3 linked regions of the Homo sapiens genome follow. The main gene of each other region encodes a partner of the protein of the gene in region 3 in a complex. Each region holds a gene or a part of one and is shown on either strand. Other genes may lie near its edges.

Region 1 (7,771 bases), on a different chromosome or scaffold from region 3:
TAACCGGATTCCCTTCTCATCGTTTAAAAAAAAAAATCCCCCAAAATCTAAGAACTTAGTTTTGGTGGTGGACAGGACTTTGATCCCCACCCAAATGAACCAAAATAACCCAGGAGATAATTCAAACCAAAGTGGTAGGGTAGAGAGGGGATCAGATTTTAAAATAACTGCTTTTGTGACACAAACATGACGCTGGGAAAGACAGGCTTGGGCTAGGCAGTGTCTCTGACGATGACTATCACCATGTGTTCTTCTTCTAGCTTGCCCAATGTCCTTAGTGCTGACTGGAGGTACTGCTGGGAAAAGTCGCAGGGTGGGAAGGCGTAGAGCATGCCTGTGCCGTCTCTGCCCTTGGACCCCCCCACTGGCAAGCTGATCACCCCTGCGGCCTGCTTCTGTTTCAAGTAGGAGACCAGGTTCCTGAGAAGCCGCCTCTGCAGACCGGGCTCTACTGTGGGCATCCCCTCAGTGCCAAGCCCACTGGGGGTTGCCTGGGTGGCTAAGAGGACCGCATAGCCGTTGGGGCTCCCCTGCTTGATGCGTCGTGTGACCTCGTCAAGCTTGGGCTGGTCCAGTCGAAGGCGCTGGGCGATCTTCAGCTGGGTCAGCTTGCTCCCAGAAGTGTGGTCTTTGAGGAGACTGCTGATCACCCCCTGGTCCCCCTCTAGGATATGCATAGACGTGGGGAAGCAGCTGTTTTTCAACACCAGAAGCCCATTCCAACCCAGCTGTAGTGTCTGAGCGTACTCTGAAAGATTCTTCAGCTTTTTGGTCTCGTGTTTTGGCTCTTCCAGAGGCTTGGGCTCGGCCTCTGTGGTCCGGTGATTGCGCTCGCTGTCTCTTGCCTTCTTCCCGTGGGAAGAGTCTGCAGCCTCGTGGTGGTGGTGGTGGTGGCCCCGTTCCTCAGCCCCATGTCTGCTGTTGCTGAGGGAGTTGCTGCTGGACTCCTTGGTCCCTTCACTGGAGTGGTTCTCCTTGCGGCTGCGCTCAGGGGTGCGGTCGGAGCCCCGCTCTGACTGCTGCCCACTGCCCTTGGTCCTACTCCGTTCCTCATATGGTGAATGGGTTGTCCTCCCACGGTCACTGGAAAGGCTTCTCCGTTTCCGCCTCTCTTCCCAGGGCTTGGGCAAACCACGGTCTCCATCTGCCCCCCAACGCTCACCACTCCGGCTGCGCACTGAGCGACTGTAGCCCTCAAGGCTGTTTCGGCGGTCAGAGCTTTTACTGGGGCTGGTCCAGTCCCCTTCCAAAAAAGTCCGGTCTCGGTCTGAGTACAGAAGGTGTGGGGGCGTCCTGTCCCGCACCAGGTCGGCGTCCAGGTTGCGGTGCCGGGTGTATCCATCTGTGAGCAGCTCATAATGCACAGGGAGTGGCGAGGGCTGGTACTGCTGGGGGTACCGAGTCTCCTCTGCTTTGGCAAAATCCACGCGGAGCCTGCGGTCTGGTCCACCCAAGGGAAAACCCCTCATTTTAGCACAGGCGGCCTGGGCTGCGTCCAAGCTCTCGTACTGAATATAGGCAAAGCTATCTCCTTTGACGTGATCAATGGTCCGAATGCTCCCAAAGCGGTCAAACTCTCGGGCCAGAGCCGCCAGTGACGTGTTAGGTCCCAGGCCACCCACCCAGAGACGAGTGGTGGGGTTGGCCTTGCCATAGCCTATCTTAATGGGGTTGCGACCAATCACTCGGCCCGACATGGCCACCTTAGCCCTATGGGCCATGTCCAGGTTCTGGAACTTGAGGAAGGCATAGGCACCGCCCTGGCCACGGGCAGGCCTCTTGATGACCACCTCCTCGATGATGCCATATTTCTCGAAGGCCCTTCGCAGCTCCACCTCAGATACGCTGTGGTCCAGGTTACCAATGAAGAGGTTGCGCGTGGCCCGCTGGTCATCCTCGGGCATCAGGTCCTCCTCACACACAGCTGGGTAGCCATAGGGGCGCCCACGGTCGTCGTACAGCCCGTAGTAGTCCAGGGCCCGCTCCCGGGACAGTCCCACGGCGGCGGCAGCAGCGGCATCCAGGGCGAAGGCTGCGGCGGCGTGACGGGCACGGGGCTCCCGCAGGGGCGGGGCAGCGACGGGGGACAGCGAGCGCTGCTTGTACTGGTAGCCTCCGTGTAGCGGGAGGTAGCCGAGCGGGTCGGCGGGCGCGGGCGGCCCTGGGGGAGGCGTGGAAGCGGCGGCGCTGCTGCTGCTACTTCGCCGACTGCTCCCGCCGCCGCCACGCAGGTACACGGGCTCTACCTTGAGCGGGCGGTCGTAGAGCAGCAGCTGCCGGGCCAGGGCGTGCTGGCGGGCCTCGCGTGCGTCCTGTGGGTGCCGGAAATTCACGTAGGCCACACGGCCCAGCTCAGGCGTGTGCGACAGGCGGAGGCTGATCTCGCCGAAGCGCTTGAACTGGTGGAAGAGCCGGTCCTCGAGGTGCTCGGCGGGCAGCGCGGGGCTCAAGCTGCTGATGAGCAACGTCTTGTACTCAGGCGCGGCCGCGGATGAGCCGGGACACGCGGGCTCGGCCCCAGGCGGTGGCGGAGGCGGCGGCAGAGGAGACGCGCGGGGCGACATGCCGGAGGCGCCCGGGTCCCCCGAGGCCTTGCCGCCGCGTCCCCCGCCGCCAGCGCCGGAGCCCGAGGAGCGCCCGCTACTCGCGCGGTGATTCGCGTCCCCGGTGCCGCGGCCGTCGCGATGCCCGCCCCCGCCGCTTCCGCTGCCGCGGGGTTTGTCGCGGGCCCGCGCTGGAACCGGGTGCTTGGCGCCGCCAGAGGCCTTGTGCGCCGCCCGCCGCCCGCCCGCCTCCGCCTCCCGTTCGCGCTCCCGCGGACGCTTGGCGGACGATGACGAGCCGCGCCCGCTCGGGCTAGAGTCTCGCTCGCTCTGCCGCTTCATGGCGCTGGCGCGGCGGGCGGGCGGCCCGTAGGTTTCTCACAGCGGCGGCGGCGGAGGCGGCGGCCGAGGAGGCAGCGCCCCCGGCGCCGCCATCTTGGACAAAAGGACTCGGCGCGGCGGTGGCGGCGGGGCGGGGCGGGAGCGGCGCCGAGGGGCCGGGCATTGCGTTATCAAGGTGCGCCGTCCTGCCACGTGACTCTGCGGCGGGCGGAGCAAGACCCGCGCCGGGCCTGCCTCATCGCGCTGCGTCGCCCAGTGCCAGGTGACCCTGTGAGTGCTGGGTGAGTGGGACCGGCCGCGCGCTCTGGCGCCACCGCGCGGCCCGCATGGCCGATGCTTGAGGCTACGCGGAGTGTAGTGAACCCTGAGAGGCCGGCGAGACGACCTAACGCTTTGTGCTCCCAGCCGTGCTTTGCCGCTCTGGGTCCAGCTATCTCCTCTTGCAGGCACTGGAGCCCGCGCTGATTGGAGCAGGAGTGGCAGCTTCCATGGCCGTTGGGATCTGGGGCATTGACCCAGTCAGTGGTCTCTTTATGTAGTATCCCCTCAGTCCTAGGACTAGGCTTGAGCAAACCCCACATCACCCTCGTTGGCATCTCCTGCCTGGGATCCGGCGTTGACGGCGCCAAGGACTAATGCATGCCTATCCTTAGACCCTGCCCAGGACCCAAGGCCCACATTCTGCGCATTCTCCACGTGCAGGTTCACCTGCAGCAGTCCCCGAAAAGGCCGTGAGGACAATTGCTGTCACGCAGGTAATAACCGAAAGCAGAGACAAGCCTGCAGTTGCAGTTGATGGAGTTGGAATAGACTCTTTAACGCCACTCTTGGGTCCCACCCTCTTCTGTGGGCAGATAGCAGGCTGGAAAGGTAGGGCCGTAAGAGCCAAGGATGAAGAGGCCATATGCACAGATAGTGCCAGCAGTTATCACACCTTGCCACGCTGACCCCTCGCTGGCCAGTACCCTCCTGTTCATCACCTTCAGGACGACCTCTTCTCCCCAGGTGAGGTGAGGGAAAGGGTGCCCAGGTGCTCAAGCCCATTGAGGAAGCTTTCATTCTCCAAGGACAGTTGCTGGAGCCATGGTAGAACCTGACCCAATTTCTGGCACAGAATCCTTGCGATGGGGAAGAGCAGACCAAGTCATGCCCTCTTCGCACAAAGAGAAAGCAGCTCCTGGAGTAGCTCAGGCAGGTGCAGGGGGAAAGGTCTTGGAAGAAAGCAATGGGTTCCACAGCAGCAAGGCCTCCTACAGGCAAACTGAGCTTAGGAGACACAAGTGAAGTGATCTGAGGCAAGACCAATTACTTGGAAAGCACTGGTTCTTAGTCCGTCCTTTCAGGTGGTTTCTACAGGTGTCTTCATTGAGCCACAGCTCACACTAACAACTGGGTTTCCTAAGCACCAGTGCCACAGAGAGTGGCTTAAGAAGCAGACTCCAGCAAAACCCTGGACCTCAACTGTTAGACTAATCTAGGGTAAACAAAGGCAAAAGGCAGCTTCCCACTCCCTCTTTGTATAAGCTGACTCCTGCCAGACTTGCAAAAACTGGAACAGACATCAGAGGCTTGGAATGGACAAAAGAGCAAGTAGGTGGCCAGGCCAACAGCATCTTTATAGAGATGTCAGTGCTGACGTGCACTGATTGAAGATATCCTTGTGGAAAAACCACACTCCAGACACCCTGTCTTGCTTGTACTGAGCCACAATATAAGGCCCTCCAATGTATCCCAGACTCACTCCTCCTAGAGCTGTGGCCTCCAGCTCTCTTGGGCGGGTAAGACAGATACTGTATCAAGGGGCAGGGTATCAAGCGCAGCACCCCCCGCCCCCGCCACCTCCTTTCTGCTGAGTGCCTGCTGCCCTCTAGTGGTACACACCCACACACATCAGCTGGCCCCAGCCCCTATGTCCTGCTCTGGTATTTTCAGCACTGGTGGGTTGAGAGATAAATGGGAATGAATAACCCCCCAAACTCTGCAACTGGAAAGCAGAAACTGGTAGGAGCCTCCTGGGGCAAAACCCCATTTTGGTATTCACTATAATTCTGCAAGGACAGCTAGAAATTTTTTTTCTTTAATAAAAAAATCCCAGACACACTTTGAAGTCCTAGAGTACACCAGCAACAGAAGGAAGGGAATCCCCTCATGGGGGTACTGTAGGGCCAGCATCATCAGGAAAGCTCCAGGCTTCACATCTGATACAGTATTGTCAGGAGCCCACTTAAAAAATAAATTACAAAAAGGCTGTTTTGGGAGTAAGCAGTTGAACTGTTTTTTCCCCCTCAGGTGCAACAGAGATTGAGCAGACTACAAATCGGTCCGTGCACTGGCTGCCTTGGGGGCATATTTAGGCATCAGTTCATTTATCTTCCGGATGTAGTCAGACTTTTCTGCACAGCCTTTGCATGTCTCCCCCCAGTCATCCAGAATCTTCTTCAGCTCTTTAACTCGGAGCTTCTTCAGGTCCACTGTGCTCAGGTCGATCTGCTTGTCTGGAGGAGAGAGCAGGGAGAGTCACTGACTGGGTGGAGCACCTGCAGTCCCCCAGTAGTCCCAGAGTATGTCACTCCCTGAACGGCCAAACCAGCCCTACTGGTTTCAGAGGAAGAGACATTTCCAGACACATTTACAGGCATGTCAGTGCCTACTGCCCCCACAAGAGGGAACTAGCCTCTTCACCAGGAAGGCTGGCTACATATTATGTCTACTACAGATATGCAGCGTGAACAAGGATAGGGACAGAGGCCACACTGTCCTTATAGGAGAAACATGGTTCCCATCTTCCAAGTGCCTCTGACATAGTCACCACATACTAACAACTCCAGGCTGGTGCCAAAGAGCAGCCCTGCTCAGGCCTTTGAGTTAGGAACTTACTCTCCATGACCACAGTGACCTGGAGCCAACTGGACCTGTACCAGGAAGACGCAAGTAGGTGAACACAGGTCCTTGGCCATTCAAGTTTTTCAGAAGAGGCCCTGACTGTTTCTGAAGACTGGGACTATGTACACCAGAGACCCAGTCAGCAAGAGAGATGCTGTAGTTCCTAACTCTTGGGCTTGCATGCTTGGACATAGTGTTTCTTTTCAGAATAGTAAAAATCACTGGGGCTTCAGAGCTTGCAGCCAGAACCAGCCTGTTAAACCCAAGTCGTACTATGTCCCTTCTCTGCTGAAAAACTCCTAATGCTCCTAACTTCACGCAGATTAAAAGCCCTCACCAGCCTGCAATGCTCTCTGACTTGCCATGCCACTGGACACCTTTATCCTGCCTGTATCCTCTTCCATTAGCTGGCCTCTTGGCTAATCCTCACCTCCTTCAAAGTTTGCTGAAATATCACTTCTTCAATAAGGCCTATTCTGACCTCCACCCACTTCCATGCCAGAGCCCTCCAGCATTTAGCACCATCTGTCATACAATACAACCCACTCATGACTCTAGCTCATCATTTTCCTCTCCCAGATGGGAAACAAACCCAGAAGGTGCACAGCATTCATTAAGAAAGGACTAGGCATACTCACCATACTTAAGCTCACATATCTGGCTGTCCTTCTTCTTAAGCTTCTCACAGATCTTCTCCACAGGGATGTGGTGGGCCAGAGGCTTTGATACCTCATTGATGATTTTGGTGGCTGCATCATCTGTGGCCCCGATATAGTAGCACTGGAGCAATAAAGGACAATGGCCTTCAGGAGGTGCTTGAGAGCCATCTCCTCCAAACATACTGACACCTTGAAACATCATCTCTCTGTAGGGCCTTACTTGTGTTTTGAGATAGGGCTCCCTGTCACCCAGGCTGGAATGCAGTGGCATGATCACGGCTCCCTGCAGCTTCAATCTGTTGGGTGGTGATCCTCCCCTCTCAGCCACCCTAGTAGCTGGGTCTACCGGTGTGGGCCACCACACCCAGCTAACTAAAACAATTTTTTTTTTTTTTTGAGATAAAGTTTTGCTCTGTCACCCAGGCTGGAGTGCAGTGGCGCAATCTTGGCTCGGCTCACTGCAACCTCCGCCTCCCAGGTTCAAGCAATTCTCCCTGCCTCAGCCTCCTGAGCAGCTGGGATTACAGGCGCCTGTCACCATGCCTGGCTAATTTTTGTATTTTTTAGTAGAGATAGAGTTTTGCCATGTTGGCCAGGCTGGTCTTGAACTCCTGACCTCAGGTGATCCACCCACCTCGGTCTCCCAAAGTGCTGAGATTACAGGTGTGAGCCACCACGCCTAGCCTAAAAATTTTTTTGTGCAGACAGGATTTCACCACTTTGCCCAGGCTGATCTCAAACTCCTAAGTTCAAGCAATCCTCCCACCTTGGCCTCCCAAAGTGCTAGGAAGACAGGCATGAGCCACCGCACCTGGCCCACAGCGGCATTTTTCGGTGCCCTGCCTGTACTGGTAGTCAGATTCAGCCAGTGTAAACCCTGGACTCTTAACACATGCTCAGTCCAAGCTGACAGCCACCAAATGAATTTAAGTGTCACCAGGGTTCAAACCTTTAACAGAGAGAAAAGCCAGAGACTGTCAGAGAAATTCAAGTTAGAAAACCCATTGCTTCACTAGGGCTTTTGTCTTGGATTCGGCCCTTGCCTATCCTGTAGGCACCCTGTCACCTTCTCCTGTCCACATACATGCCACACTCTTTCAGGCCTCTGGGCACTCACACTGCTGTTCCCTGTATGGGATGGTCTTACCCCACTTCAATGATAACCCTTCCTCAGAGACTTCTTGGCCACTCTAAATCAGCACCTGCTGGTCCATTTTCTTCATGACACCCAGACATTGCATTATTTGTGTGTCCGACTGTCACTTCTTTCCCCTGATATTCCCAGTGCCTAGCACATAGTAGGTGCTTAATAAAGACTAACAGGATAAAAAAAAATCACAGTTG
Region 2 (7,187 bases), on a different chromosome or scaffold from region 3:
TTTTTCAAATTATGTATGAACAGGCTGAACATGACAAGTAAATGCTTCAAAGTATATGAGAAAAATTAGAAACCATAAGATAAAAATGTAAATACTAAAGTCTTTCCTATCATAGAGAATAGAAATCAAGGTCATACCAATAACTTACTAATTTACTCTTCTATGAAGGTTTTCCTCCATTTTTGTTTTCAAATTATTATTTGGTTTAAGTTGCCATCACACTTCCACCCACATCATCAAGTCTTTCTCAAACACGAGCATTATCAAAGACAGAGTGGCACTAGTGAAAGCCTATTTCGTTATTTTCCTATTTCTCCTCTCCATTTGCAGAGCAAATGAATATCTGAAGTCTTTATAATCTCTTTTCAATTAAAAAAGAAAATGGAAAAAGAAAAAGAAAATCCGGGACACAAAGTTTGAGTCTATTAATAAAGACACAACAAAAGAGGGTCTTAAATGGGAACTGCTCCCTTGCCCCGAGAAACTTAGAATAACACTGTACTCAGAAGGTTCACATTATAATTATGGCTGAGAAAGGAGAAGCATACAAAAGGGTCTCTTTTTGAATAATGACTCCAGAAGCTCAATTAATAAAATCTTGTCAATAAACACATATGCGTTCTAGTATCTTCACTTCAATCCATAATTAATTATCTTTTCCAGGTCTCATCTACTGGAAGCATAAGTGAAAGCATAACACTTTAATCCGGATGAGTAGCGGCATAATATTAGGGAAATTTCAAACAATTAGGCAATTAAAACTACATGAATGTACTAACTAGTAGGATAAATCCCTATACTCTGAATTTCTAAGATTAAAAAGGTGATACTAAAAATAAGGTATCTTCACATTTATACTTCATATTTTTAGAAAGAAAAATTAACTTTATTTGATGCATAGTTTGAGAGAATTTTTTAAAAAGAACTTTCTAAAACAAACTTTCAGATTGCTTCCGTAAATTTAATGCTAAAACAATTCCAAACTAAATTCCAAATACAACTGACAGAACTAAGCTGACTACATAGGAATTAGCAAAGCAACACTGCAGTACTATGCAGAAAAAACAATTTGTTAAAAAGACTGTGCACAGAAAACATCCCATGCTGGTAGCTACTCTAAAGTGAAGTAAAAAGAACTGCATCATACAAAAATACAAAAAAAAAAGAATAAAAGACTCTTTCTATATCAACAGCAGTTAATGCTTCAACTACTACTAACAGCTGGAGAAATAGCTCCACCTCTATATGAGATGGAGTTGGGAGAGATGAGGAGGTGAGGAAGACTATCATCCACTGAAAACCAACTCTCTAAGTAAATTTAAGTTAAACAATGTGTTTCCTCTATGTAAATGCCAATGCATATTATAAATACTGATGATATTACAATTTTAATAATTTGTAAAGATGTTAAGATACCATCCACTTGCTGGATTTTTAGTATGTTAAATTCATATTACAAATATGAAAATCACATAAGCTTGCAAATCTCAAAATATGCAATGTTCATTTAGAATGACCAGTAATCAGGAAGCCAGTAAGAGGCATACATTTGATAAAACTGAATCCTACCAGATGCACAGAGTGAAAGCCTTAGTTTCAGAGTGCAACTATTTTTAAAGCCGCAATTGTTACAAGCTTGCATCAACTTTGCTAGTCTCTAGTTGAAACTGTCATCTGTTATAATCTAAATAGTTCATTAAGAAAATAAAAATTATTTGAAAATCTATAGATTGTATTCACAAAACGCTCCAATATATTGTACTAAAGCCAGTAATTTCAAATGTTACAGAACTAGACCCCGCTAACTGGCACCATATACCCATAGACTGAACTGCATAAGTATTTATTCTCCAACGGTATCGCGGACTTCGAAAACTTGAGGTGTAAAGATGTTTTCCAAATTTTTAAAACTACTTTAAAAATCCAAAAATCTTAAGAGACTTCATACTCCCATAATTTTCAAAGTAGTTCGAATTACCTGAAAGCCCCATAGTATAACCAAATACCTTAAGACTACCCTTCACAAACAACATCTTACCAACATAATTCAAGTATTATCAACTCTAAATAATTTTCAAACCACATAAATTGCGTTAGCCTATTACAGAGAGATAATGCCGCCAAACAGACTCTCTTCTTTCTATTCCACTTTCCCCCGTTTCTGACAGTTGCCAAAACTACCTACCTAAGGCTTGTGAAGATAAAGTAGCACTCAATTCCCAGGACCTAAATCGTTATCACTGCTGAGGGAAAAAAAAAAAAACAAGACCAATCACAAGTAAGATGTTTTTCTCTAACAGATCTGGAATGAGTATAGAGGAAGATTCTAAATTTAAGCCCAAATTGCTGCACCCTTCCATCGCACACAAATACGAACACCATACAAGGGTTCCCGTGCTTACATCAAATGGTAACGAGGGGTACAGCCTATTGTCTGAGTCTACTTATCGCCCTTAGACAAATGCCAGAATCATAATCAGAGTGAGAAATTACGCCTGAGCACAGGGGGCTATTGCAGAGTTAAGGGTGGGATGCTCAAGGAAAGCTCAAAATCCCAGTGACTCAAGCAAAGACGGGGGGGGGTAACCCGGGCCTCCGCATTACGGGTCCGCTCAATGCCTTCCCCAGATACCCACACCAATTCACAGAACGCTTACTTCCTCCCCAAGCTCCCTTCGCAAGTGCAGTCCGGAGGCACCACCGCCGCCGCCGCTCCGAGGAGCGGGGGAGGCGACTCTGTCCCCGCGCCTGGACCCAGGAGGACGACGACGAGGAGAAAGCGATGCGCGCGCGGCTCCCGGGAACCGGCTCTTGGCTAGCGAGGAGCCCCCGGGATGGCTGAGAAGCAGAACCAACCCGCCCGCCGCCTCTCCAGGGTCAAGCGAAACTGGGTCGCAGGAAGAAAAATAACGAAGAGATTGTAGATTAAGAAAAGGCAACAAAAACACTACCAGGCCGCTAGGAGGACCGCCTCAAAATGCCGCCGGAAGTCAGAGGTTTGCCCTGTTCCTCTGTAGACCCAGGCAGCTTCCGGCCGTCAGATTAGTCGTCAGTGCGCAGACACCACCCTTCGTGGACACGCCCTCTAGGCGTAAGGTTCCATGCGAGCGGTAAGAGTGCGGCGGGACTTGGAAATCGAATCTGTGCTCTGTGAGAGATCCTAGGAAAGGAAACTGGGAGCCCGGGAGAACTAAAATTCCCAATTAAAAGTGAATTTAAGTGAGTTTTCTCTTTTTATTACATAATTCCTTACCATAAACAGCTGTTGTAAATGCGCAAAATGCGGCATTTGTTGACAGTACCTAGAGCCACTCATTCATTCGTTCAACAGTGTTTATTGAGCAGCTGAGCTGGAATGAGAGGCTATGTTTGTCGTTTTTGACACCCCTCCCCTTTCTGGGCCATCGCCTAATTACCGTGGAGCAAACGGAATGCATGGTTGTATTTCTAAAGGCACAAGCAGAAATTTATTGAAAATTTGGAGCAGAAATCTTTAATGTACTTCTGACCACCCTTCCTTTTGTTGAGTAGGATCCAATGATCAGCGTGAGATGATCATTGATTAAACTTGCTTGAGATGGCTAGTCAAACGTCGAAACTTGCTTGAGATGGCTAGTCAAACGTCGAAAATCAAAGAAAAAGTAGGTAACTAGACTTTTACAATTTTTTTTAAAGGGTAAAAAGACATGAACCCTAGTCTGCCTTAATGGCAAAGTAGCACTTATTAGGTTCTCTGACAGAACCAAGGAATAGGAAAATCTTTTATCAAAACTACGGATAAAACTTAAAAATAATTTGATACAATGATTTGGTCTTGCTGGAATCAGTAAATTAAAATACGGAAGCAGAATGATAAAATCAGGGGCATTAAACATTCCTAATGACATGCCAAGCTATTTTAGAGACAGCGGCAAAAGCTTCTCTACAGGTGGGTTTGATGTAACGCTCCGGCAGCAAGAATCCGTATGTGCCCGTATCTCGAAGTTCAATTGTAAACGAATATTTGATGCCCAAATCATAGATCCAATCGTCCCCACCTCCAGGAGCTAGGTCTAAAAGAAGAAGAAAGAAATTGTTGAAATACAGACGTTTCAAATTAATTTACAAACTGGGAATTGTTTGATTTAAATGTTTATTTGTTTGTATACCTTTAGATTTTTTTCAGTTTTTAACTAATATAAACAACTTTACAATGAGTACCCTTGTTTATACATAATTGCTTCTTTGTCTCTTTAGAATATTCTTCCCTAGAATAGATTTGCTAGTCTAAGGCTCTGTACTTTTTGCAATTACGGCATGTTCCCAAATGGACGTCAAAAGAACTGAATTCATTTATACTTCCACAAGCAGGGTATGAATTTGCCCATTTCCCCTTCCCATACCATCAATAGGAATTATGAATTCTGATAATTTTATGGGCGAAAAATAATATCCAACTGTCTTAATTTATGTTTTTTGATTATCAGTGAGTTGCACATTTGTTTGGCATATTTATTGGCTATCTTTATATTTCCTATCAATTGTCCTTCCTCATTTGTCTACTTGGTTCATTTTATCAATTGCTTATAAAAACGACATTAGTGTTATTAGCTTTGTTTGGCATGTAGACCTTTTTTTCTCCTTTCATTCATTTCTCCTTTCACAAGAATTTTTTCTCCTTACTGAGATTTCAACTTGGTTTATGCAGGGTTTTCATATGAAAATATATGCTGTACCTGGAATTTACTTTGGTGAAAGACATGTTAATAATCCAATTAATTTTTTTCTAGGTAACTTGTTAGGTTTTCCAACCGCATTAATTGAATAATCTGACTTTTTTTGGGGGGGTGCTAAATTGAGTCCAGGTTTATGGCAAAGTCTGACCCAAAATTTTAATTTATAATTTTAGCATCTATCTAATACAGTTTGGGAAGCATCTCATGAAAGCTACAATTGCCAGAAGACTTGTTACAGTTTAATGCATGTTAACTAAAATGTGTACATATTTTAGTGTTCATGATAAATACAGTTTCGACCTTTTTTGAGATGGAGTCTCACTCTGTCACCCAGGCTAGAGTGCAGTTGCACAATCTCAGCTCATTGCCACCCCCACCTCCCAGGTTCAAGTAATTCTTATGCATTAGCCAACCAAGTAGCTGGCATTACAGGCGCCTGCCACCATGCCCAGCTAATTTTTGTATTTTTAGTAGAGACAGGGTTTCACCATGTTGGCCAGTCTGGTCTCGAACTCCTGACCTCAAGTGATCCTCCTGCCTCAGCCTCCCAAAGTGCTGGTATTACAGGCATGAGCCACAGCACCTGGCCTCTTTTTGTTTTTTTCTAATCATTAAAAAAAAAAAAAAAAGGAAAAACCTGGATTTGGCCTTCAGGCTGTAGTTTTCTGATGCCTGGTTACAGGTTTATTTTATGCTCCTCTTTTCCCATCTCCCTTCAAACTTCAAAAGGGCAAAATCAGTCTGTCCTCCCACTGTGTGTAGATAGGAGTTACTCACTAAATATCTTTCAGCAAAAATTAATCAAAACTTTTTGTTAAGAGTTTGTCACAAGTTTTGTGTGTGTAATATATATTAAAGACAATCAACTGTAATGTGTTATGAGCTATACTCTTGGGAACAGGCTAACACTAAAAAACACTTGATGCAAATGGCATGCCCTAGATTAGTGTAGTGTACAACCTGCACAACCTTCCATGGTGGCCCTGGGAATCATGCAAAAGTTTTATGAACTTTTCTGCTTCACTCAACTAGTATGATGCCAATTCTGTAATTCCTACTTGATTGTGATAAATATGATTTCTTAAATAGGATTTTGGCTTCTTTTTAGTAACTCATTTATTAATATAGCTTTGTTCAGCATTGTCATAGCTATTATGCTTCTGTTCCTAATTATTACAATTCAGTTGTATTACATGTGACCCTATTTAATTCAGAAAAATTAAATACACAAAGAAAAACAGATCACACAGATTTCTTTAGTAGCTCAAAGTTCTCTAAGATCATAAGAAGAAATACTTACATAAGGTTTCTGAGCCATGGCCATGTGTATACCTGGTATTTTTACTAATTTTCTCAATAGCACGAACTGCTTCACTGGCTACTAGAGACTGGAAGCAACAAGATATAGAATTTCAGTTAATGTGCAGCTTTGAAACATGACAAGTAGAAGTTTCTAAAAAATAATCATACATTAATTGAATCAAAGTATACAGGTAGAAAATCTAGATTCATCTAAAAGGCAAATAAATAAGGTAAACAAATTAATTTAAAATATGTGCACTTTATGGCAATCACAATTGGGTGGCTTTAAACATAAACTATTTCAATATATTGAAATAATTTATATAAATAAATATATTAATTTGCAGAAAAAAATTATCACATGCCTTTTTGGGAACTCATTTATTATGGAAAATGAAGTATAACTACATCTCAAAGGCTTAGAGGTACTCCATTTCTGAACAAAATTATCACCAAACTTTAAATCCAACCTTTCTAAACACATACAAACACCTAATGCATGCATGACTCACTTCTTATCCTTCTCACAACTTCTATTTTCTTCTTGTGTAAAATGTCTAATGACTTCCATAGATTCATCAAATCAAAAAAGATTATGCCTCTGGTATGGAGCAGGATAATAACTAAGACCCCCATTTGACTTCATTTTGTCTGTTGATATTCATTTTGTCAAATCTATTCTGAAGTTCTCACTTATCTGGAACTTTTCGGAAATTGGAACTAGCATCATGGTATACACTGTCACCTTCTTGAAAAACTCAAGAGATTTATCAGCGGATATTATTTTATGCCATCTCATTGTTCAAAAAATAAGTTTTAATGTAACCCCATTGTCTACATAATGAAATACAAATTTATCTGACAGTCACACCCCTTCAGAAGCCAACCTAATCTACTTTCTGATGCTATCACCCTCCACTTTTGCATCCTCTTATGGTGAACACCAACTTCTTTGCTTGGAAGGTCCTTCCTTCCCTGTCTGCCTATAGAAATCCTCTTTCAATGCCTGTCTAAAATGTAGCTGATCTTTGACATCAACAGCACTTTATTATTTGTAGTTTTTCCCCCCCTTAATAGATTGTAAATTCCTCAAGGACAGTAACTACTTTATCTCCTCACTTATCTCAGCATTTCCCTCTGAATGCATTAGTGAAGCCATCCCTTGATATT
Region 3 (7,620 bases):
TGCCTACCTCAGCCTTCCAAAGTGTTGGGATTACAGGCATGAGCCACCGTGCCTGGCTGCATGTTTTCTAACCTAATGTAATTCAAGGAAAAGTTTGTAATTAAGCTTTCTTCCAGAAAATACCTGAAGAGTTCAACCTGGGTTACTACTGCTCAGAGGAGCCCGAGGGTGAAAGCCACCAGTGAGCATGTGGTAAAGGCTTTATTCTTTGATATGATAACTTTATTAGCTGGTGTTCTTGTTCACTGCTACTGTAGCTCCAGATTTCCACCATTTCCCATCAGCACTCTCAGGCGTTAGCCTCCACTGAACATCCACTTAGAAATTAAACAATGGGAAAATGAGAGATATGCAAGATTGTCAAAAACAATGGAATTCCTTCCACTTTACTGCCTATGCTCTCAAAACTGTCTTCTTGCAAAGTATATATATTTCATTGGTGTTTACAACTAACCTTCTTACTATATGAATTTTAAAGAGTAGAAAAAGACAACTGTAAGATACATTAATCTGTGACCTGACTTAACCCCATATAAAAATGTCACAAATTCTAATGCAAAAAAGGTTTCGTTTAAAAAGTCATACCTTTTAATAAATAAATGTCTAAGCTAAGATAGTCATATCACGTTTAAAACTAGTGATTAGTAAAATAAATTTTAACAAAATCACAGTTTTGAAAAAATAATTTAATTACAAGTAGTTGTTTTTGAAATAATTTTTTAAAATTACAAACAAAAAAATCAACCCATTCCTAAAATCGATTAACCCACAAACATAATAGAAAGCACTTTGAAAGATATACCTCTAAACACTCTAAAATGTGTGCATTCTCACATGAATGAAATATTTTAACTGAACTGGACAGGTTATTTCTGGGAATCTTTCTTCCTCAAAATTAGAACAGAAAAACAGTAAAGCGAAGACACACACGTGCGTGCGCGTGCACGCAACCCAAAGCAAAACCCATTCCACCACTGGAAATATTCCAGACGGGATTGCCTGAGCCATTATTTGTTTCAAATTAGTGATGTATTTATAGTACCTGATATACTCTGGCTTACAGCCAATTTTATAGAAAAAAATCCATTTATAAGTGATTCAAATAAATTATGATTCCTTAATATAACGGAAATATACTATGTAAGCATTAAAAATGTAGTTGTCTAGATACATTAAAAAATGGAAAAATGCCAAAGAGACCAAGTAAAAAAAAACAAGGTGCAACTCATCTGTGTTTATGGTATGATCACATTTGTTTAAAACAATATACATAAAATAACTGTATATGCATAGAAATTATCTTGATGATACCCAAGAAAAAGTAATAGCAGTTACTGCTCTTGGAGAAGAGAATGAGGATGTCAAGGTCACATCCGGGAGTGACACTCACTTTTCATCTCCCCCTTTCTCTACAGTATTTCAATTTTATACATAAGCATGTATTATCTTATTAAAAGAGAAAATTTTAACAATGACAAGAAAAAAACCATAGAACTCATGACTGTTATCTAAGTGTCAAAGAAAGATGCCTGCTCAATTTGAGTACATGTTAATAATACATTTTATGGATTACTCTTCTACTAAAATCTACTAAAAAGATACTTAGGCCATTTCTACTGTGAACTTAAATGGCATAAAATATTTACAAAAGCCTTAATGCAAGCACATAAGCTAATTTCAAACAGATCTGGTTACTTACCCTCCAACCCTCACAAATAGTGAGAATTTTAGAAGCAGATTTCTTGCTGAAAAGTCACACAAACCACTTCTTCAACCCACCCTCTGCCCCACAATCAGTTCCCTAAAGCACAAACATATGATACTTACAATTGATTTGAATGATTAAGAGAGAACTTAAGTCACCCTTGTTAAAACTGCACTTAAACGTTGGGACAAGCTGGAACATTTATCTTCCACTCATCTTAGACTCCATTATCACCAAGCGAAAATTTGAATTGGTGACTTATAGAATGATCTGACGGAAAAAATTCACCTCCAGGATTGGATGGAAGCATGAAGAAAATAATGCCTCATTTATCTAAATGATTAAATGAATTTGCTAGAAATGATCACTATACCTTTTTTCAATTCACAAAATGTCTTACTTAGGCCAGCCCACAGTTCCAACACATTATCTTCTGGCAGACACCCTGTGAAGCTGTCCCACATTACTTTCTACTGCAATACCCTGGGACAAAGTGTCATAAAAGTAACAAGTGTCAAGTCTCCTTGTCTTTTATGTAGGTCTTTTAAAAATGAGGCACAGCGCCTTTTCCTTCACTTTGAAGAGCACAGCAACAGTATTTCCAAAATGAATCTGCTCTCAACAGGCCCTCCCCGCCCCAAATTAAAATGTTAAAGAGTACAACAAAATCATCATAATATTCTTTGAACTTAAAAAAAAAAAAAAACCAACTATTTCAAGGCACATTTAATTTAATATCAAGAGTGCAATACAAAAGGCCCAAATACAATGAAGGAACACATTCCCCCATTAACACCAACGACAAAGCTCTTTTAAACATGTGCCTGTTGAATGGAACGGGGATTTCATAAAATTCACTAAAAAAAATAATGCAGTGAGTCTCATCACAGCTAATATCCTTATACAATCTAGTTGTGAAATGAATGTTTATAATGCTTCAAACAGTTTCAACCTGAAGTTTGATACCACACCTTCATGTTTGTACAGTCCTCAGTAAGATTATCTACAGTTTTTGCAACCATTCAAAGAACAAACCATTGAATAAAACCACATTGATTAAGGCTCAAGCAAGTAATATAGAGCCCCAAACTAAATGGTTAAATATATGCGCTACTTGTACGGACATCTATTATTTGATTCTCTCATGACTATTGAAAGTTGGTTCTCAGCAAATAAACCCTTTAAAGGCAAAATTCACCTCATTTGAGTTTTGACCCAGAAGTTCAACAACAATCATGAAGTCCACAGTCTTATTGGCAAAACTGATACACAGTGTCTCTAAGTCACTATGCTCAAGGTTAAGAGCGATGCATATTCCGTTTTTACATTTTACTGGAATTTTACATGTTCAATTCATGATTTAAAATCTCTAGGTTTTCATTCCTTCAAACTGTCTGAAGACACAGTGTGCCACAGACTTAAGACTTCTGTTTCTCCCTCTATTTTCTTCAAACAGAAACATTTCTCAAGTGTCTACATGTTCTAGAAGGGGAATTTTTCGGAGGTGGCCACTTCTTCGGAATAGTCCGACGCCATCAGGCCTCTGAAGCAAGGGGAAGGGGAAAAGAAAAAAGCTGAAACACAAGGTTCATCTGGTAAGTTTTACATTAACCATTACAAGCTGGACAGTGTAAGAATGTGGCTTTTTTTTGGCTCAAAAAGTCTGAGTCTTGGTGTGGAAACGAGTACTTGGCTGTCCCACCACAGCTTTCTCGTAGTGGGACTGTCAGGGAAGTCTTGACTGGGGAGTATGATTTGTTTACCTATCAGGCGTAAACTTCCAGGCACTCAGTTCATTTTGGGCTTGTTCCAGTTTGTCTTTAGTCTGTTCCAGTTCACCTTTCATTTTTAGGAAAAACAAGTTGATCGCTGGGTCTACCATTGTTGATCTCAGTTGGGCAACGCTCGGCTGCTGGACTTGCTTGAGGTACTGGATTTGAGTCTGTGCAAAGCAAAAGAAACAATTACGACCAAATCAAAGGAAACATACATAAGAAGGTGGGGAAAACTCCCTCCATTCACTTGATTTACCAACTCTTTCATTAAGCTCCTCCCCTCTTTGATCCTGAAATTCTCTAGAAAAATCTTAAAACTTTCTAGAAAAAGTACAGACTAAAAACTATTTGATGAATATGCTAATTACCCCGATCTGATCACTATACATTATATGTATTGAAACATCACTATGTAGTAGTCCTTGAATATGTAAAAAACTTATTTGTCAATTAAAAAAATAACTATTTAAGGTTACTCACTTAGGAATTGAGGCCATTTGATTACATCTCCAAATCTGGGACTTAAAGTGGCTACATACATTTTACTTTACAATCCAAACATTACCAAAAAACAAACGAAAATCAACATTATATTTACTAAAAATGCTGACAACCCAGTGGAAAAAAGCAAAGTTTAAAATATTAATTACCTAAGAGTTAATGAAGTCTTTGGTTTGCTTAATTTTTTACCTGTGGAAATTATTCTATGTAAAGTCCCCTAAAAATACATCAGGTGCAAGATTATAACTTAAAATACACATTTGAATTTCTAAAGGAAAAAATATACAGTACTTATAGCTACAAGAGTTGCTGTTACAGCTTTATAAAAGCAAAACTCTATAGGACCTTAAGCCAAAATAAAGTATAATTCATATTTTTCCCCTTCTGAATAGATCCGAATCATAGAATTGTAAAGCTGGAAAGTAACTCACCTAATCCAAACTGCTTATTTTGAGATTAAATAACCCAACTGTTTAGTTCAGTGCCATAGCGGGACTACAATTCTAGTTCTCCGGCCTTCTGATTCCCAGTCTAGAGCTTTTTCCACCATACCAGAACCCTTCTACTTACATATGAAACCTTCAATTTCGACTTCAGTTGTGCTATTTACTAGCACACTAAAAATACATTTCTAAAATATGAAATATAGTTATTAGCATTAAATTCATCATTTTCTTCATACTCAAAGTAGATCTGGCCCAAGATCTAACTCCATACTAAGGCTTAAATAGGATTACAGTTAAAATTTTCTAATATAAATTTAGTAAAAGGAACAAATATACTAAGTGGTTTGGGAATATATTTGTTTCACTGAGCAAAAATCTAGTACAACTGCATAGTCAATGTGAAGCCAGCTGCTAAGATAACAGAGCGAGAATAAACCATGACTTACAGTGCACTCCATGTACTGACAGGACTGATTAAAACAGTCTACAGCACTGACTGAGACTCAGTTACTATTTAGCTTTACAAAGACCCAATAGTCAACACTTTCATTCATGAAAAGAGAGGTGAATCAGACTAGAATAAATTCCATGTTCTAGGGAAGAGAACACTGAGTAAAGTGTTTTCAAAGTTAGTTTTATTCCTAAATCTATTTTGAGTTGATTGGCAAAAGACTAAATGAAAAACAGAAATACCACTGAGGTGAACAAAAATGACAGATTTTACTTACCAACAAAATAAAATATAGTTAAGAATACAGTATATAGTTAAGAATATAGTAACTACGTGGCTAATTTATGCCTTACGCTCAAAACTAACTAAATTGACTACTGATGTACTTGGCAAAGACTGCATGTAGACAAAGAAATAAAGCATTATTATTAAAAGATCAAATGGATGAGTTAGTATGCTGGACAAACAAAAGATCTACACAAATAGATTCCTAAGGATGTATATTTTATTTTTTCTAAGCTTAGCTTAATTTGAAACACCAAGGGTAAATGCAGCAGCTCTGTTTTAAAGGACAGGTACCTAATACAAACCTTTCCACTATTTTTCACTCAAGAGGGTAAGAAACCCTCCTTCTCAGGGCCAATCCTTTCAACCATTCGCTTAACCTATTCCCTCCAAACTCCTATAGTACATCACTCCCATTCTTTCTACTCTTTAAATTTAGTTTCTCTCACTTCCCACTTGACAGTTCCTCTAGAGCAGGGGTATCCAATCTTTTGGCTTCCTTGGCCAACAACCTCTTAACTGCCAAATCTAACGAACAATTTTAAATTCGTATTGTACAGAACTTTATGTATGCCTTTGTTTTAATCACTTTGTATTTTGGGGAAGGAGGAGGGAATGCTGGATTTCCTGTTTTCCTAACACCACACTCTACTCTTCTTTTAAAATTTGATCTTTGTAGGATCTATCCTAGTAGCATCGTTACTCAGTCAAACAAGACAAACCTGAAGCTGTGATTCCTCCCTAGATTTTTTTCATTCCTTCCACAACAGCATCCAAACTAAACAAGTCCTATTGATTGTGCCTCCAAAACACCTATTCTGTCCTGTCTGCTACCACCAGTGGCTTCATGTATTTCATCTGAACTATTTTAACAGCCTCACAATTGGTTTTCCTGCTTAAAGTCCTGTTCCTCTCAAATCTATCTTTCATACTCAAGTCAGAGTGATCTACCTAAAATGTAAATCTAAATCTGATCCATCACATACATCTCTTGCTGAAGAATTCTTCAGTAGTCCCCTCTCTTCTAGAATACCCAAGATTCCAGGCTGACCTCATCTTTTTTCACTCTCACCTGAAACTTTATCCTCATCTGCCATATATAATCTTGACCTTTCCTTGTGATTTTGCTCCTGCTGCCCTGCCCTGTCTGCAAAACCTCACTTGTATTATAATTGGAAGAACAGGAAGTTGTTCAGCTGGCGTATGCAGGTGACAGCTGTTTTAAAAAAAAAAAAAAGCTGGAAAAGGTTAGGTTCCATTATAGTTGAAATAACCTTAAAATCCAGGTCGAGGAGACAAGAGTGATGAGGTATCACCGAAGGCCTTGACCAGGCGTAATATGATCAAAACTGCCAGCGCATATAGGACAGATGGAGAATCAGATGTGCATGAATAGCACAAACATTGTGATGTGCACACATCAACTATGATGTCAAGAGTAGGAATCCGGAAGAGAAATGGAATTCAAGACATTCTGATCCTATGAGATATTACCATCAACACCTTCTATTCACACTCTATCTCCCAAGTGCTAGCAGTCTAAAGGTAAGATCCATTTCTCGTGTAAAGGGAAATTTGTTAAAACATTCATTAGTAACTATGGAGAAAGAAGTATCAGTGGTGGTAAGAATTACAACAAAACTGATAGAAACAAAAGGACAAAATGTGTTAAGAAGGTAGAGAAAATGATAATGGGCCAGGTGCGATGGCTCACACCTATAATCCCAACAGTTTTGGGAGGCCAAGGAGTAAGGATTGCCAAAGTACAGCAGTTCAAGACCAGCCTGGGCAACATAGGGAAGACCTCATCTCTACAAAAATTAAGAAATTAGCTGCGCTTGGTGGCGCACACCTGAAATCAGTTACTCGGGAAGCTGAAGTGAGGTGTGATTACACCACTGCACTCCAGCCTGGATGAGAGAGAGGCCCTGTCTCAAGAAAAGGGCGGGGGGGTTAGTGGGAAAAAAAAGTAAAGAAAATGATAAAAGCCAGCCTTTAGCAAAGTAAAATGTGAAGAAGTCATTTAGTAACAAGTGAAAGAAGAGTAAATACGTGCTTTTGTGGAAATTTAAACAATCTCTGTAAGGGAAGTAAAAGGACTGTGACTGAACCTTAAGGAACATTCTATTGGCAAAAGAAACAGAACAGGACTGTGCCCATAGATTTTTGGTGTCTCCAATGACCAGAATACTATCTTAGAAGACTTTAATAACACATAAGAAGACTTCTATATGTACCAAATGAAGGGAGAGTACACAAAGAATTGAAGAAACATTCAGATTTTAAAATCAGAAACAAGGATACAGCTGCCTCTAATTATTTTGTATAATTACACCGTAAGATTGAGCCTAAACTACCAGAGCTGGATGATCAATTATGTCACTAGATTTCAGATCTACGTAGACATAGTAAATACTACACAGTACACATCAAAGTTCTAACAATTAAAAAGGAGAC

Evidence for each region.
Region 1: WTAP (region 3) and RBM15B share a complex: the UniProt entries of both Homo sapiens proteins name them as parts of the WMM complex.
Region 2: the proteins of WTAP (region 3) and ZC3H13 are in contact, whole or in part, in a cryo-EM structure (PDB 7VF2), measured with the Homo sapiens proteins. Residues at the interface, in NP_001257460.1 of Homo sapiens: Asp202, Glu203, Asp206, Phe207, Gln210; in NP_001317494.1 of Homo sapiens: Arg1512, Pro1514, Gly1515, Ala1516, Ala1517, Leu1518, Lys1520, Phe1521.

Annotation. Positions count from the first base shown.
Region 1 is NC_000003.12:51,386,514-51,394,284, reverse strand, and holds the start of RBM15B (putative RNA-binding protein 15B), read right to left. Parts: upstream 3,001-7,771; 5' UTR 2,886-3,000; coding exon 213-2,885; 3' UTR 1-212. Other genes in the region: MANF (mesencephalic astrocyte-derived neurotrophic factor precursor), read right to left, coding at 5,196-5,380, 6,407-6,548. UniProt on the Homo sapiens protein: RNA-binding protein that acts as a key regulator of N6-methyladenosine (m6A) methylation of RNAs, thereby regulating different processes, such as alternative splicing of mRNAs and X chromosome inactivation mediated by Xist RNA.
Region 2 is NC_000013.11:46,049,747-46,056,933, forward strand, and holds the start of ZC3H13 (zinc finger CCCH domain-containing protein 13), read right to left. Parts: upstream 3,001-7,187; 5' UTR 2,658-3,000; intron 2,244-2,657; exon of another isoform or gene 2,186-2,243; intron 1-2,185. Other genes in the region: CPB2 (carboxypeptidase B2 isoform 1 preproprotein), read right to left, coding at 3,868-4,052, 6,016-6,103. UniProt on the Homo sapiens protein: Associated component of the WMM complex, a complex that mediates N6-methyladenosine (m6A) methylation of RNAs, a modification that plays a role in the efficiency of mRNA splicing and RNA processing.
Region 3 is NC_000006.12:159,744,218-159,751,837, reverse strand, and holds part of WTAP (pre-mRNA-splicing regulator WTAP), read right to left. Parts: intron 3,648-7,620; coding exon 3,469-3,647; coding exon of another isoform or gene 3,465-3,468; exon of another isoform or gene 3,249-3,464; coding exon of another isoform or gene 3,188-3,248; exon of another isoform or gene 2,419-3,187; intron 1-2,418. UniProt on the Homo sapiens protein: Associated component of the WMM complex, a complex that mediates N6-methyladenosine (m6A) methylation of RNAs, a modification that plays a role in the efficiency of mRNA splicing and RNA processing.